Homo sapiens: one gene and its partners. The protein of the gene in region 1 purifies or fractionates together with the protein of each later gene. This does not show direct contact. Each region holds a gene or a part of one and is shown in the gene's direction. Other genes may lie near its edges.

Region 1 (4,300 bases):
ACACCATGGTTCTATGGATGTAGGTAGGCAGTCCCAATTATTAAAAATGGTCACAGAGACATGGCACAGGTGAAGACATCTGGAGAGTCACTAAAAGCAAGACCTGGAGATTGTGGGTTTGAAATTCAGTTTCTGAGGCCAGGCTCGATGGCTCATGCCCACAGTCTCAGTGCTTTGGGAGGCCAAAGCAGGAGAGTCTCTTGAGGCCAGGAGTTCATGAGTCTATAGCTATGCAGGAGGATCGAACCGAAGAGTTCAAGGCTGTAGTGAGCTATGATCACACCACTGCATTCTGAGCCTGGGTGACAGAGCAAGACCTTGATTTAAAAAAAGAAATTCAGGGGCTGGGCGCCGTGGCTCACGCCTATAATCCTAGCACTTTGGGAGGCTGAGGTGGGAAGACACGTCAAGAGTTCAAGGCCAGCCTGGGCAACATACTGAGTCCTCGTTTCTACAAAATATACAAAAATTGGCCAGGTGCGGTGGCTCACGCCTGTAGTCCCAGCACTTTGGGAGGCCAAGGCGGGCGGATCACGAGGTCAGGAGTTTGAGACCAGCCTGGCCAACATGGTGAAACCCTGTTTCTACTAAAGATACAAAAAATTAGCTGGGCGTGGTGGCATGCGCCTCTAGTCCCATCTACTCGGTAGGCTGAGGCAGGAAAATCTCTTGAACCCGGGAGACGGAGGTTGCAGTGAGCCGAGATCGCACCATTGCACTCCAGCCAGGGCGAGACTCCGTCTCAATAAATAAATAAAAATTAGCCAGGCGTGGTGCCGCGTGCCTGTAGTTCCAGCTACTCGGAGGATCGCTTGAGCCGAGCGGTGATCGTGCCACTGCACTCCAGCCTGCGCGACAGCGCAAGACCCTGTCTCAAAACAAAGCAAAACAAAAAAGAAAAAAAAATTCTTGGTAACTGAGCACTGCTTGTCCAGCCCATTGAGTTTCTGTAGACAAATTGTAGGAACTGGCACAGCAAACTGGCCACAAAGACGTTAGGGGCGTGGACACCAGCTGCTTGAGCTGCCTGCTGTCCCAGACTCCCGTATGTCATCGCGCAGCGTGGGATTTTGCGGCTTCCTGACAGCCCAGGCTGTCGCTTGACTTGATCTTGGGTTTCACCAAGCCACGAAGGACTAGCGTCCCTCTCTCCTATCCCAAGGGCATTAAGCCTGTCTGGATGAAGTAGGAGAGGAAAGATTTACACGCAGTTCTCAACTTTACGTGACGTGACTAGGGAGGGAATTGACGGTCGCACCGTCTACCTAGCCCAAACGGGGTCACAGCAGGACAAGGAAGTAGCCGATCTCCCAGATGCGGTCTCTTCGCTCCGCTCCACCCGCACCAGCAGCGGCCCACCCACCTCTCCTGTAAGAGGAAGAACGTCCCGGAGACACTTCCGGCCCCGCCCCCCGAGGCGGAAGCGGAGTGCCAGGCTACTCCTCCCGCAGTGTGGGTGGTTCCGAGGCTGACTACCCTGCGGCGGCGCGGCTCGCAGTCCTTCTCAGCATGGACCGCACTTGTGAGGAGAGGCCCGCTGAGGATGGGAGCGACGAGGAGGACCCAGACTCCATGGAAGCCCCAACCCGGATCCGGGACACTCCGGAAGACATCGTGCTGGAAGCTCCGGCTAGTGGGCTGGCGTTCCATCCGGCCCGTGACCTACTGGCTGCAGGGGACGTGGACGGGGACGTGTTCGTGTGAGAGCGGGGCAGGGCCGGGGCGCCGGGTCTGGAAGCTTCCCGGGGGTGGACCTGGGAACAGGAGAGATGAGAGAAAGTTGCAGGGAGACAAATTTTGCAAGATTCTTTGGGTCCAATTTATTCAGTAACATTCGGCTCTTCTATCACACCAATCTGTTGAAAGAACTGGAATGTCGTGACAGAGCCCAGATACCGTAGTAGGCCAAAAAGCCCTTTAAGGCCTTGTTATTTCCCACCGATTATTATTTATTTACTTACCTATTTATTTTTGAGACGGAGTCTCGCTCTGTCGCCGAGGCTGGAGTGCAGTGGCGCGATCTGGGCTCACTGCAACCTCCCCCTTCCGGGTTCAAGCAGTTCTCTTCCTCAGCCTCCCGAGTAGCTGGGATTATAAGCGCCCGCCACCACGCCCGGCTAATTTTTTTTGTATTTGTAGTAGAGACGGGGTTTCACCATCTTGGCCAGGCTGGTCTTGAACTCCTGACCTCGTGATCCACCTGCCTTCCTCCCAGAGTGCTGGGATTACAGGCGTAAACCACCGTGCCCGGACTCCTACCGGATTATTATATTGTGCCCGAGACAGGCTCAGCAGGCCCCTTTAAGTGATTTTTCAAACCACAAATCTTGGCTCACGCCTGTAATACCCGCACTTTGGGAGGCCGAGGTGGGCGGGTCACCTGAGGTTGGAGCTCGAGACCAGCCTGTTCAACATGGTGAAACCCCGTCTCTACTAAAAATACAAAAATTAGCCCGGTGTGGTGGCGCGGGCCTGTAATCCCAGCTACACGGGAGGCTGAGGCAGAAGAATCACTTGGATTCGGGCGGTGGAGGTTGCAGTGAGCCAAGATCGTGCCACTGCACTCCAGCTTGGACAATAGAGTGAGACACTCCCTTGATTAAAACCCTTCAATGGTCTGCTTTTAGGATTTAGTACAAATTTCTCAATCCTGCCTTCAACGCCCTGACCATCTGTGCTCATTCATCCATACCTTTTAAAAATACGTCTTGGGCCGGGCGTGGTGGCTCATGCCTGTAATCCCAGCACTTTGGGAGACCAAGGTGGGGTATCACCTGAGGTCAGGAGTTGGAGACCAGCCTGGCCAACATGGTGAAATCCTGTCTCTACTAAAAATAGAAAAATTAGCTGGGTGTGGTGGCGGGCACCTGTAATCCCAGCTTCTCGGGAGGCTGAGGCAGGAGAATCGCTTGAACCTGGGAGGTGGAGGTGGCAGTGAGCCGAGATCGTGCCATTGCACTCCAGCCTGGGCAACAAGAGCAAAACTCCATCTCAAAAAAAAATCTCGAAACCTCAGCCCATTTGCATGTGCTATTCTGTCCGGAAAACTCCTTTCCCCTCACTTTTACCTACTATCTCTGAGTTTCCAGGATCTCTTCCCTCTTCCTCTCTCCCCAGACTAAAATTGGTTACCTGTTAGATGCTGCCATGGCACCAGGTGCCATGGTACCTTTCCCTTAATAATGAATGGTTGGTAACCATATGTCCATTTGTGTAATTATTTGAATGCTGTCTCCTTCACTAATGTTTTTCAAACGTCTTTGACCTTGCCTCACAGAGAAATACCTTTTACATTATATATGATGCTCTGTGATACAATTGCTGATTTTATTCTATTATTGTGTACATGTACACAAAATGCTGATCGTAGCTTACTAGTCCGTTATATGACTAGAATGTGAAAAAACACTGTTCTGGAGTGTAATCTGTCATCGGTTTTGTTCTCTATTTTATCTCCAACCTCTAGTCTAGGGTAGATGCTCAACACATGTTTGATTTTGAACAAAAGATACAGGTTAGAGGCAGTGGAAAAGTTGAAGATGTTATGCTTATCAGATTTACTTAATGAATTTAAACCTCAACCCCTCATTAGCTGTAATGGCCTTGAGCGTGTTAACTTCTGTATTTTCATCTTTGAAAGGGGGAATTATACCTACCCTTGCAGAGGGGACAAGTTTGCAGTACAGCACCTAAGCAGCTCTTCAACAAATGTAGGTTCCCTTCTACTACTATCCATATTTATGGTGCCAGGCACTTGGGAGTTGCCCTAGACATCCACCTTTCTTCACATTCCACACAACTTTGTTGCTTCCCTTGTCTTAAAAAAGGTTCTGGAGGAAAATTCTTGGTTCTCCCCTTCCCCACCCTCAGCCATGACTATTGTGAAAAGGTTCCTTTTCCGAGGATTAAATTCAAACTTCTGCTTGGCTCATGTGGTCTCATGCCCACCCCAGCCCATCTTTCTAGATTCAGTCATGCTACTCTCCTGCTACAAGGAACCCTCCTCATTCCTTATCTCTGCTGCCTCCAGTATCTGGCCCTTGCTCTCTGCCAGGCAAATTCTACTCTTGTATGATCCAACCCACATGTCACCACCTTAGCTTTCCAGGGCTCTCTTCTCCCTTCCCAAGTATTCATTCAATTTGTGAATGTTTATTAAGCTACTTTTTCACGTTCAGCACTGGGATAGAGAAAATGAGCAGGCTCAGTTCTGCCTACCTGGAACTCACTGGCAATTAAGCATGTATTCATTCTGCCCTTTTTGAGGATCTGCTCTGAGGCAGGCACTTGGGGGTATTCC
Region 2 (3,500 bases), on another chromosome or scaffold:
ATATCTGTTCGGTATACTGATTTCTTTTTTTTGGATTCATGCCTGGCAGTGGGTGGGATTGATGGATTATATAGTAGTTCCATTTTTAGTTTTAGTTTTTTGAGGAACTTCCAAACTTTTCTCCATAGTGGTTGTGCTAATTTACATTCCCACCAAGAGTGTATGAGAGTTCCCTTTTCTCTACATCCTTGCCAGCATTGTTACTGCCTGTCTTTTGGATAAAAGCCTTTTTAACTAGGATGAGATGATATCTCATTGTAATTTTGATTTACATTTCCCTGATGATCAATGATGTTGAGCACCTTTTCATATACCTGTTTGCCATTTGTATGTCTTCTTTTGAGAAATGTCTATTCATATCTTTTGCCCATTTTTTAATGGGATTATTAAATTTAGAAGGCTCATTTAAAGTAGATAGGAGTGCCATTCTGTGCAGTGTGTACATTTATATAGCAAGATTTACTAGGGTCTTTTTTTGTTTTTTTTTTTGAGACGGAGTTTCACACTTGTTGCCCAGGCTGGAGTTCAGTGGCGATTTCTGCTCTGCTCATTGCAATCTCTGCTCTGCTCATTGCAATCTCTGCCTACGGGATTCAAGTGATTCTCCTGCCTCAGCTTCCCAAGTAGCTAGGATTACAGGCATGTGCCACCACGCCTCACTAATTTTTTGTATTTTTCGTAGAGATGGGGTTTCACCATGTTGGCCAGGCTGGTTTTGAACTCCTTGCCTCAAGCAATCCACCCGTCTCGGCCTCCCAAAGTGCTAAGATTACAGGTGTGAGCCACCGCGCTCAGCCAAGATTTACGAGTTTTAATGGGTCAGGAAGAATTGTAAGTTCTACTAGGAAAGATGCTAAGATTGTTTTATTCATAGTTGAATCCTCAGCACTTCAAATAGTGCCTGGCACTTAGTTGACTTTTTTTTTTTTTAAATAAAAAGAGGAGATGGAGAAAGAGAGCAAGACGCAGACAGTGAGCAGAAAGAGAAGTTAGAATGATCTGTTGTTGGGATTTTGTTAGATGTGAGTGCCTGAAGTGTTGAAAGAAAAATAGTTGAGGATATTGGCAAGAGTGTGGTTGAAGTGATAATCTTGCAGTCTAAGTGAGGGAGTGAAGACAGAACACACAGGTAGATAGAAAGTGGAGTGGTCAGTGGATTGAAAGGTTACATAATTGGTTAAGGAAGAAGTGCTGTGGAAGTAACTGAATGGGAGCTGGAAGGATAAAAGCTTGTGGTCAGAGAGAGGGGTGAGCACTAGGGTTTGGAATGTGGCCATTAGAGAGGCTGGCTGAAATGGAATACGAAGTGAAAGTAATTGGAGATGAGAAGGAGCTGAGGGGCTAAGTCATTGGTTTCCAAACGTCCTGAAAGGCATTTCAGAGTATGTGGAGACATTTAGTTTTTGGTTGTTACAATAACCTGGGAATGCTATTGGCATTTAGATTGCAGGAGTCAGAGATGCTAGCATTTTTCCAGACTCAGAACATCCCAGTACGACAAAGAATTGTTTGCCTAGCATATCAGTAGTTCTTCCATTTAGAAGCACTGGGCTCAGCTGTGAGCCATGGCCCACTCCCTGTAATCCCAGCATTTTGGGAGGCTGGAGTGGGAGGATTGCTTCAGAAAGCGTAAGCTTTTCCTGTTTAAACCCAAAATGCAGAGAGTTCTACATCTCTGATACTTGTTTCTAATTTTTCTTTGTGTGTGTGTGTGTGTGGTACAGGTAAAAGGATTGAGAGGGAAGAAGAGGAAGAAGAAGAAGCCCTTCCTTTAGATATGATGGATGAAGATGACTTACAGTTAATGAAGGATTTAGGACAAAGAGTATCTTTTCTAACAAGAGATCTTTCTTCTAGGTAATACTTCATTTGGGTTATAATCATTCATATCCATTTAGTGTTAAAAACTTGGTTCTGAATTTCACTTAGGTGGTTCAAGGTGTTCACCTTTGAGCACAATGTTTACAAAGAATAAAGTATTATTTAGCTTATTTCCTAAATAAAGGAGGTTCATGTATAAGATAAGCTGATTTCATTTAATGTACATCTTTCTTTTGAGTCTGAATAGTCAAGTAGAGTGAATGGGGGAAGAATGCTGTTCTCACTTTGAGGTAGTGGCAGAACAGTTCTGAGTTCCTACGGCTATGATTTCACTTAATCCTCATTACCCTGCTGGTAGGTCTTATTCCCATTTCCAGAGAGGAAACTGATGGTTCCCTGCAGTCACAAGTATCTGGAATTTAAAGTTGGACCTTTTAAACTCCAAAGTCTATGCTATACTCTAAAGATTTTGGGAAAGTAAGAGTCACACTTGGTTTTATGAACTGTTCTTCATAAAGAATCTGCTGTAACTTTCACCTTTATTTTGCATCTAGAGGGAAAACTGGATGTAGCCAAAGTTTGAGTTTGTATGGTAGGTTGTTTACCCATTTCTTTTATTCATTTGCTGTTTGAGTGCCTGCTATGTGCCAGACACTAGCCTAAGTGCTACTATCCATATACCTATTGAAAGTTGGCTGGTGGTTTTTCTGTACTTTTGAAATGATAGGTCTCTAGATAACTTTTTAGATCTATTAAGACTGAAAATTGATCTTTTTTTCCCCTGCAGTGAGCCTGTTCATGCGAAGAAACGGAAGCATGAACGCATTATAGATAAATATGAAAAAATACCAAGAACTCTGCAAACTGCACCAGAGAAGGAACTGATTCATTTACTTCCTATCAAAGATAAAAGTGGTATAATCCCACAGACTAGGGAGAAGCCAGGTGAGTCTAATAAACTGGTAATATTAGTTGAACTTTTACCCCCTTACTGATATCATGTTTTTTTTTCACTCAAAATTTAATTTTACTTTGATTTTACCCATATCTAGAAAATATTCAATTAGTCTTATAGCAAGCTTGATGATTTGGGCCAGAATTATAGATTATCTCAGGTACCAATTTGTACTGTGAGGACAACTGAAGCTACAAGGTTCAGGTGATTTTCTTTTCACTAAATTTTGTTGTTTCTAAAATTAGAGCATATTAACTGTTCTTGATTAGCTTTCTTTTTTAATGTATCTTCTTTTGTATGTGAAATAAAACAGAAAAGTTCAGATATCAAAGATGTGAAGTTACATGGTTTATAACAAAGCGCATACCTATAAAACTACTATTCAGACAAGGAAAAAAAACTACTGCTAGCTTCCAGAATCCTCCCTTGTGCTCACCTCAATCACTAATTGTGCTCTTCCCATAAAAGTAACTGCTATCCTGAGTTTTATCGTAATCACCTCCTAGCATTTCTTTACAGTTTTTACCACTTAAGTATATATCACAGTTTTAATACATATGTTTTCCATATAGTTACTGATAGTAACAAAGATGAAGAGGATCAAGAAGAAGAGAGGGAACTTGAGGAAGGTAATATGTCTTTACAGTTACTAAATTGTTAATTGAGAATTTTTTTGCATAATAGTAAATGTGAGTTAATTTTAGATGAAATCTGGAAGGTACAT
Region 3 (3,500 bases), on another chromosome or scaffold:
AATATATGTGTGAATAACATCTATTTCTCATCTCTCTGGAGATGTACAAAAAAAGGAATTTCTGGCCAGGCGTGGTGGCTCATGCCTGTAATCCCAGCACTTTGAGAGGCCGAGGCGGGCAGATCATGAGGTCAGGAGTTGGAGATCAGCCTGGCCAACATAGAGAAACCCTGCCTTTACTAAAAATACAAAAATCAGCTGGGTGTGGTGGCGCGTGCCTGTAATCCCAGCTACTCAGGAGGCTGAGGCAGGAGAATCACTTGAATCCCAGAGGCAGAGGTTGCAGTGAGCCAAGATTGCACTACTGCACTCCAGCCTGGTGACAGAGCAAGACTCCATCTCAAAAAAAAAATTTCTACAAATATTTTTTGGGTTCCTTCTACCTACTTCCCTTTTCTAAAATTCAACGCTTGTCTTTTTTGCTTTGTTCAGATGGTTCTTTGGTGTCGCTGTCCCTAACGTCACATACTGGTTGGGTGACATCAGTAAAATGGTCTCCTACCCATGAACAGCAGCTGATTTCAGGATCTTTAGATAACATTGTTAAGCTGTGGGATACAAGAAGGTAAATTCTATTTATGATCTATAAGAGAAACATATCAATTACCTGTTATAGAAAGGAAATGAATACTGAAATTCTTATCTAAAACCAGAAGAGTAAAAAAAGCCTCATGGTTTTGCAACCTCATGTGACAAATACTGATATGCAAAAGAAAAGCCAGGATCAAAAAAATTTTTGGCCAGGCACAGTGGCTCACACCTGTAATCCCAGCACTTTGGAAGGCTGAGGCAGGCAGATCACCTGAGGCTGGGTGTTCAGGACCATCCTGGCCAACATGGTGAAACTCTGTCTCTAATAAAAATACAAAAATTAGCCGGGCATGATGGCGCACTCCTGTAATCCCAACTACACAGGAGGCTGAGGCAGGAGAATCGCTCGAACCCAGGAGGCGGAGGTTGCAGTGAGCCGAGATTGCATCAGTGCACTCCAGCCTGGGCAACAGACCAAGACTCCATCTCAAAAAGAAAAAGAAATTCATGTTAATATGTTGTTTTGTTGCATATAGATAGCTAGACAAACAGTATATAAGGCCATAGTTTGGGGGTTAAAGTAGTCAAGGAAGTGTGAAAATGGGCCTAATTATAAATAAATTCTTAAAATGAAATAACATTTTTTTCTGAATATATTTGTTATAATAAATGTCTGTGGTCTACCAATGATACAGGAAAAAGAGGAGAGATGATCAAATAAACAGAATTTTAAGATTAAGTGGTTATTGGGGCAAGGTTGGTAAACCCTGTAAAGTTTTCAGATAAGTATAAGTGATTATTCAAATGTTTGTTTTAACACTGTGAATGCATATAATATGTTAATATTTTCATCTTTTAGTTGTAAGGCTCCTCTCTATGATCTGGCTGCTCATGAAGACAAAGTTCTGAGTGTAGACTGGACAGACACAGGGGTAAGAATTTATTAGTTATTTGATGAAGAGGAAAGTGACTAGAATAAATCTGGTGTTTGTGTTTATAAAATGTATTAGTTTCGGGCCGGGTGCAGTGGCTCACGCCTGTAATCGCAGCACTTTGGGAGGCCAAGGTGGGCAGATCACGAGGTCAGGAGATCGAGGCCATCCTGACTAACAAGGTGGAACCCCGTCTCTACTAAAAACACAAAAAATTAGCCGGGCATGGTGGCGGGCGCCTGTAGTTCCAGCTACTTGGGAGGCTGAAGCAGGAGAATGGCGTGATCCAAGGAGGCGGAGCTTGCAGTGAGCTGAGATCGAGCCACTGCACTCCAGCCTGGGAGATAGACTCCATCTCAAGAAAAAAAAAACATTTATTAGTTTCAATATATTTGATATTTATAATTCTGTATTATTTCACTTAATATTATTTATAAAATGTCACCTCTCATTCAAAGAAGAAACAAATTTGTCCTTTAATAGGCCAGGCATGGTGGCTTATGCCTGTAATCCTACCACTTTGGGAGGGAAAGGGGGAAGATTCTTTGAGCCCAGGAGTTCAAAACCAGCCTAGGCAACATAGTGAGATGATGTCTCTACAAAAATTAAAAAATTAGTTATCCATGGTGGTGTGACCTACTTGAGCCTACTTGAGCCTGAAGCAGGAGGATCACTTGTGCCTGGGAGGTCGAGGATGCAATGAACTATGATCGCGCCACTGCACTCTAGCCTGGGTAACAGAGTGATACCCTGTCTCAAAATAATAATAATACTAGGAATAGTAAATTTGAAATTTTGGAGCATTTTTTTTTCTTGTGAGTATAGTGGGTTTTTTGTTGTTTTTGCTGTTGTTGTTTTAAGAAACAAGGTCCTTTATTGCCCAGGCTGGAATGTTAGTGGTGCGGTCGTGACTCACTGCAGCCTTGAACTCCTGGGTTCAAGCAATCCTCCCGCCCCCATGTGTATCTTCTTTATTTATTTTTAGAGATTGAGGCTTGAACTCCTGGGCTTAGGTGATCCTCTTGCCCTAGCCTTCTGAGTAGCAGGGACTACAGGTGGGTGCCACCATATCTGGCAAATTTTTAAATTTTTTGTAGAGACGTGGTCTCACTGTGTTCCCCAAGGTAGTCTTGAACTCCTGGCCTCAAGCAGTTCTCCCGCCTCAGCCTCCCAGAGTGTTAGAATTACAGGTGTGAGCCACTGTGCCTAGCCCCCACGAGTATCTTCATGAAACATTTTACCTCCAAAAACTCACTACTTAAGACTAATTGGATCAAAGTGTTTACCAGTTGGAAAAATCTTGCATAAGTCTGCATTATAAAATGTGTTTAAAGAATTACAATTTAATTATTTTTATGTATATACGTAAGCTCTTACTGCCTAAGAATTCTTTCCAAATATAAGGCCTAGGGCTACTTGAATAATTTGTAATATACAATTAATGTGTTGTCCTTTAAAAATTTTTAATTTTCTTTAATAGGTAAAACTGTATCCCTTTCAAACTTATGTATCTTGGCAGATGCTTTATAGAAAGTGCAACAGCATATTATGTCTCAACCAAATTTAAATGATAGCTTTTAATGTTTTAATAAACTGTATCATAGTATAGTAGTGAAACAACGTTGGTCCCTTTACTCACTCTCAATGCAAGTTAACTGCTCACCCATAATTCCTTTTGTAATGAAAATCATTAGTATTTAATTAGGTTTAGCTATGATGTGAAATAATTATATTTATTTATGTTTTCTTGTCTTTTTCTCTCCTTTTACACAGCTACTTCTGAGTGGAGGAGCAGACAATAAATTGTATTCCTACAGATATTCACCTACCACTTCCCATGTTGGGGCATGAAAGTGAACAATAATTTGACTATAGAGATTATTTCTGTAAATGAAATTGGTAGAGAACCATGAAATTACATAGATGCAGATGCAGAAAGCAGCCTTTTGAAGTTTATATAATGTTTTCACCCTTCATAACAGCTAACGTATCACTTTTTCTTATTTTGTATTTATAATAAGATAGGTTGTGTTTATA
Region 4 (3,500 bases), on another chromosome or scaffold:
TGTATACTCCTAATTCTTTCCATGCTTTTCATTAATGCCCTTTATTAAAATTTCACTTGAATCTATTCTTTCTTGACAACTTGTAGTTGCTTTTTCATATCCTCAAATGCTTGGCTGCTAATATTCAATTCAGTTTAGACCGTAATGTTAACTGTATCCTTTAGCCCCATGGTTGATTTTTTTTTTTAGGGGGAATAATTTTCATCAGCTGAAATGCTTCGATTCTCACTTTATGTCTTGGCTTTTGTTTTTGTTTTTGAGACAGGGTCTTGCTCTATTGCCCAGGCTGGAGTGCAGTGGCGTGAGCAGAGCTCACTGCAGCCTTGACCTCCGGGCTCAAGCGATCCTCCTGCCTCAGCCACCCAAGTAGCTGGGACTACAGGCATGTGCCACCATGCCTGGCTAATTTTTAAATTTTTTATACAGATGAGGTCTCATTATGTTGCCCAGGCTCGTCTCAAAACTCCTGAGCTCAAAATATCTTCCCACCTTGGCTTCCCAAAGTGCCAGGATCACAAGCATGAGCCACCGCGCCCAGCTGTTGCTGTTTTTTTAATAGTAGTTTAGATTAATATGGTCTACTATTTTCTAATTTTACTGATTTGTTTTTGAACAAGGTTTTCATTCAAGAGCATCTCTTTTATTCTGCCTTCCTCAGTGCAGTTTTTTCTTCTTTTTTTGTGCTTTTCCTCTACTTATCAAGGGATTCTCTCTCCCTTTCCTCTCCTGCCTCTCTTCTTATTGTAGTAAAAAACATAAAATTTACCATCTTAACTGTTTTTATGTACATAGTTCAGTAATGTTAGGTATATTTATATTATTGTGAAAGAGATCTTATAACTTTTTTATTTTGCAGAAGTGAAACTTGGGCTATGTTTCTTTGTATGCCTTGTGACTTATTGTTGTTGGTATTGTTGAGGCTTGGGCATTTGAATAAATACCCAGTTGTTGTCTTTACAGACTGCTTCGTGCAGGGGAAGACCTTCACCAATCAGCCTAGTTAGAGATTTCATGACCTCCCAAACCTGTTCTGGAGATTTGTCTTCTCTGGGGTTATGCATGTGCCTTTAGTTGTTCCCTGAGCCCCTTGTCCCTACTTCTTTTCAGAGCCCATAATCTCTTTCTTCCCCTGGTTTCTTACTGCAGCTCTAACATGCCATGGTGATCACATCTGTTTTCAGTGGCTTCCAAACAAGGCCTTCTTCAGTCCTGTCAGCCTTCCGAGTCACGCAAAACAGAAAATAGTCCCTCAGACAGCCCCCACAGTACCCAGAACATTGGACACATGGTCCCCTCTTTTTTTTCCATCCCAAGAGAAGATCTGTGGTGTGGAAGAAGCCATATTATGTCAGATAGGGAGAGGTGTAGATGGGACCACAAAACATCACAAATTTTCCTTTCCCATTTACTGGAAACCCTTCTTGGTTTCATGCTGGTCTAGGTGCTATATAGTTTCTCATGGAATCTCTACAGTTCTCTCAAAGGTGTTCTGGTCCGTATATTGTTGTTAACTCATTGTTTCTGTGAGAGTGAGAGGCTGAAGTGAAGCTTCCTAGTTCTCCATTTCCAGAATGATGGTGTGGTGTTGAGGGAAGGGAGGAATTTATAATATTGTTCAGAAGAGTTGGCATTCTTCACAGCAGTGTCTCCAAGGAGTACCACCTTTTCTCTATATATCTGATTCTTCTCCAGAAGCATGGCTTCTCTGAGGCTGCCAAGCCTCTTGCTTGTAGTCAAGTGCTGAGAACTGTCAAAATCATGACCCATGTTCCTTATTTGACATTTAATTGGAGTTTTTATTTTGGGGTTTTTTTATGCTTCATCTAATTCTTCCATGCCCCTTGATTTTTTTTTTTTTAACCAAATCTATTAAGCCTCCTCTCCCTTGCTTTCCCTACTCACAGGCTTGCAGCAGTTTACAATAGTGGGAGTTACACTTATTTATTTAATTACAGGTCATTTGAAAATTTTTGTAATAGCCCTTGTCTCTTAGTAATGCCGAAGGTATGGCTCATATGTATTTTATTTTTATTCTTTTTATTGATTCTGTGGTTCTTTGGGGAAGGTGTGTGGTTTCACCATTTTCCTGCAGACCTGGAAGTCAGCCCCATATTACCTTTCAGTATGCGTAAAAAGACAACTACTGTTTATATTATTGTGGCTCATATCCAGGAGCCACAATAGAGTATGAGGTTCCTACCTTATCCAGGCTGTGCTGTTCTCTACAGGTTCTTGAGCAGGCCAGAGTGGAAATCCCCCTGTTTCCCTTCAGCATTGTTCAGTTCTCTTTTAAGGCCTTTTCACCTGTCCTCACTGAGGAGATGAACAAAAGGGTAAGTGAATGGGTTCTGCTGAATGATTTATTTAGTGACTTATTATAACCTCTCATCATTAAGGAAAGTAATACATGCTTTATTTAATTTGTTGTGTTTTTCTCTAGATTTTTACTATCTGCATATTAACATTTAAAAATATTTTTATGAAAATGGGAATCAGACTATGCATACTGTTTTGCAACTTTATTTTTTCATTTAACAGTATATCATACATCTTTCTGTATCACTACATATCTTATTTCCCTTGTTTTTAATGGCTACATAGTATTCTGCTATATGATATACCTATTAACATTTGTGCTTTATACATTTTTGCTATTACAAATAATACTTCAGTGAACATCCTTGGACATTTGGCAAGTATTTATATCAAAAAAATCTTTGGTGAATAATCCCATGCATTGACTCATGATTTCAGTTCTCTTTCCATATTCATTCCCATACTATATTCTGTTGTTTTTCCTACAGATGAGGATCAAGTGGACAGAGATATCAACTGTCTATGCTGGGCCATTTAGCAAAAATTGCAATCTCAGGGCTCTGAAGAGGCTGTTTAAAAGCTTTGGCCCAGTCCAGTCAATGACTTTTGTTCTTGAAACCCGTCAGGTAAGACCGGAAAATTCAGATTTCATTTTCTAGATTAGTGTTAGACATTCAGGTGACTGCTTGGGCCATGCAGATAGCAAATATTCGTAAAGTAAGCTTGATTGCTACCAACTGGAGTGTGAGACATACTCTAATGAGAGCAGTTGTTGACCCACAAGAATGTATACCCAGTATTGTGAGATCTTTTGTTGTGTGTGTTTAAAGAATTGAGAAATCTGGCTGGGCGCAGTGGCCTATACCTGTAATCCCAGCACTTTGGGAGTTTGAGGAGGGAGGATTGCTTGAGCCCAGGAGTTCAAGACCAGCCTGGGCTCAAGCAATGTGAGACCACATTGCTACAAACAATTTAAAAACAAGAATTAAGAAATCTGTCAGTTTTCATATGTTGGCTCCCATTTCTCAAATACCAGGCCATACGAAAAAATATGTCTGCTGGTTGAATATAACCTGTGGTCCTTATGATTGTACCTCAGCTTTAAATGATAAAATACTCTTTCAAAAAGAGAAGTAACTTTCATATCTTAGAAAGTTACTTCTTTTTTTACATTACAGAGTAGG

What was found.
Region 2: the proteins of WDR55 (region 1) and NOC3L purify together in Homo sapiens (affinity purification with mass spectrometry; 2 studies listed by BioGRID and IntAct, with this or other methods). This does not show direct contact.
Region 3: the proteins of WDR55 (region 1) and WDR12 purify together in Homo sapiens (affinity purification with mass spectrometry; 2 studies listed by BioGRID and IntAct, with this or other methods). This does not show direct contact.
Region 4: the proteins of WDR55 (region 1) and REXO5 purify together in Homo sapiens (affinity purification with mass spectrometry; 2 studies listed by BioGRID and IntAct, with this or other methods). This does not show direct contact.

Annotation. Positions count from the first base shown.
Region 1 is NC_000005.10:140,663,404-140,667,703, forward strand, and holds the start of WDR55 (WD repeat-containing protein 55), read left to right. Parts: upstream 1-1,500; 5' UTR 1,501-1,509; coding exon 1,510-1,700; exon of another isoform or gene 1,701-1,754; intron 1,755-1,961; exon of another isoform or gene 1,962-2,034; intron 2,035-3,640; exon of another isoform or gene 3,641-3,710; intron 3,711-4,300. UniProt on the Homo sapiens protein: Nucleolar protein that acts as a modulator of rRNA synthesis. Plays a central role during organogenesis.
Region 2 is NC_000010.11:94,356,440-94,359,939, reverse strand, and holds part of NOC3L (nucleolar complex protein 3 homolog), read left to right. Parts: intron 1-1,724; coding exon 1,725-1,857; intron 1,858-2,608; coding exon 2,609-2,766; intron 2,767-3,348; coding exon 3,349-3,405; intron 3,406-3,500. UniProt on the Homo sapiens protein: May be required for adipogenesis.
Region 3 is NC_000002.12:202,880,674-202,884,173, reverse strand, and holds part of WDR12 (ribosome biogenesis protein WDR12), read left to right. Parts: intron 1-432; coding exon 433-565; intron 566-1,390; coding exon 1,391-1,463; intron 1,464-3,236; coding exon 3,237-3,314; 3' UTR 3,315-3,500.
Region 4 is NC_000016.10:20,837,527-20,841,026, forward strand, and holds part of REXO5 (RNA exonuclease 5), read left to right. Parts: intron 1-2,200; exon of another isoform or gene 2,201-2,228; coding exon 2,229-2,333; intron 2,334-2,804; coding exon 2,805-2,942; intron 2,943-3,500.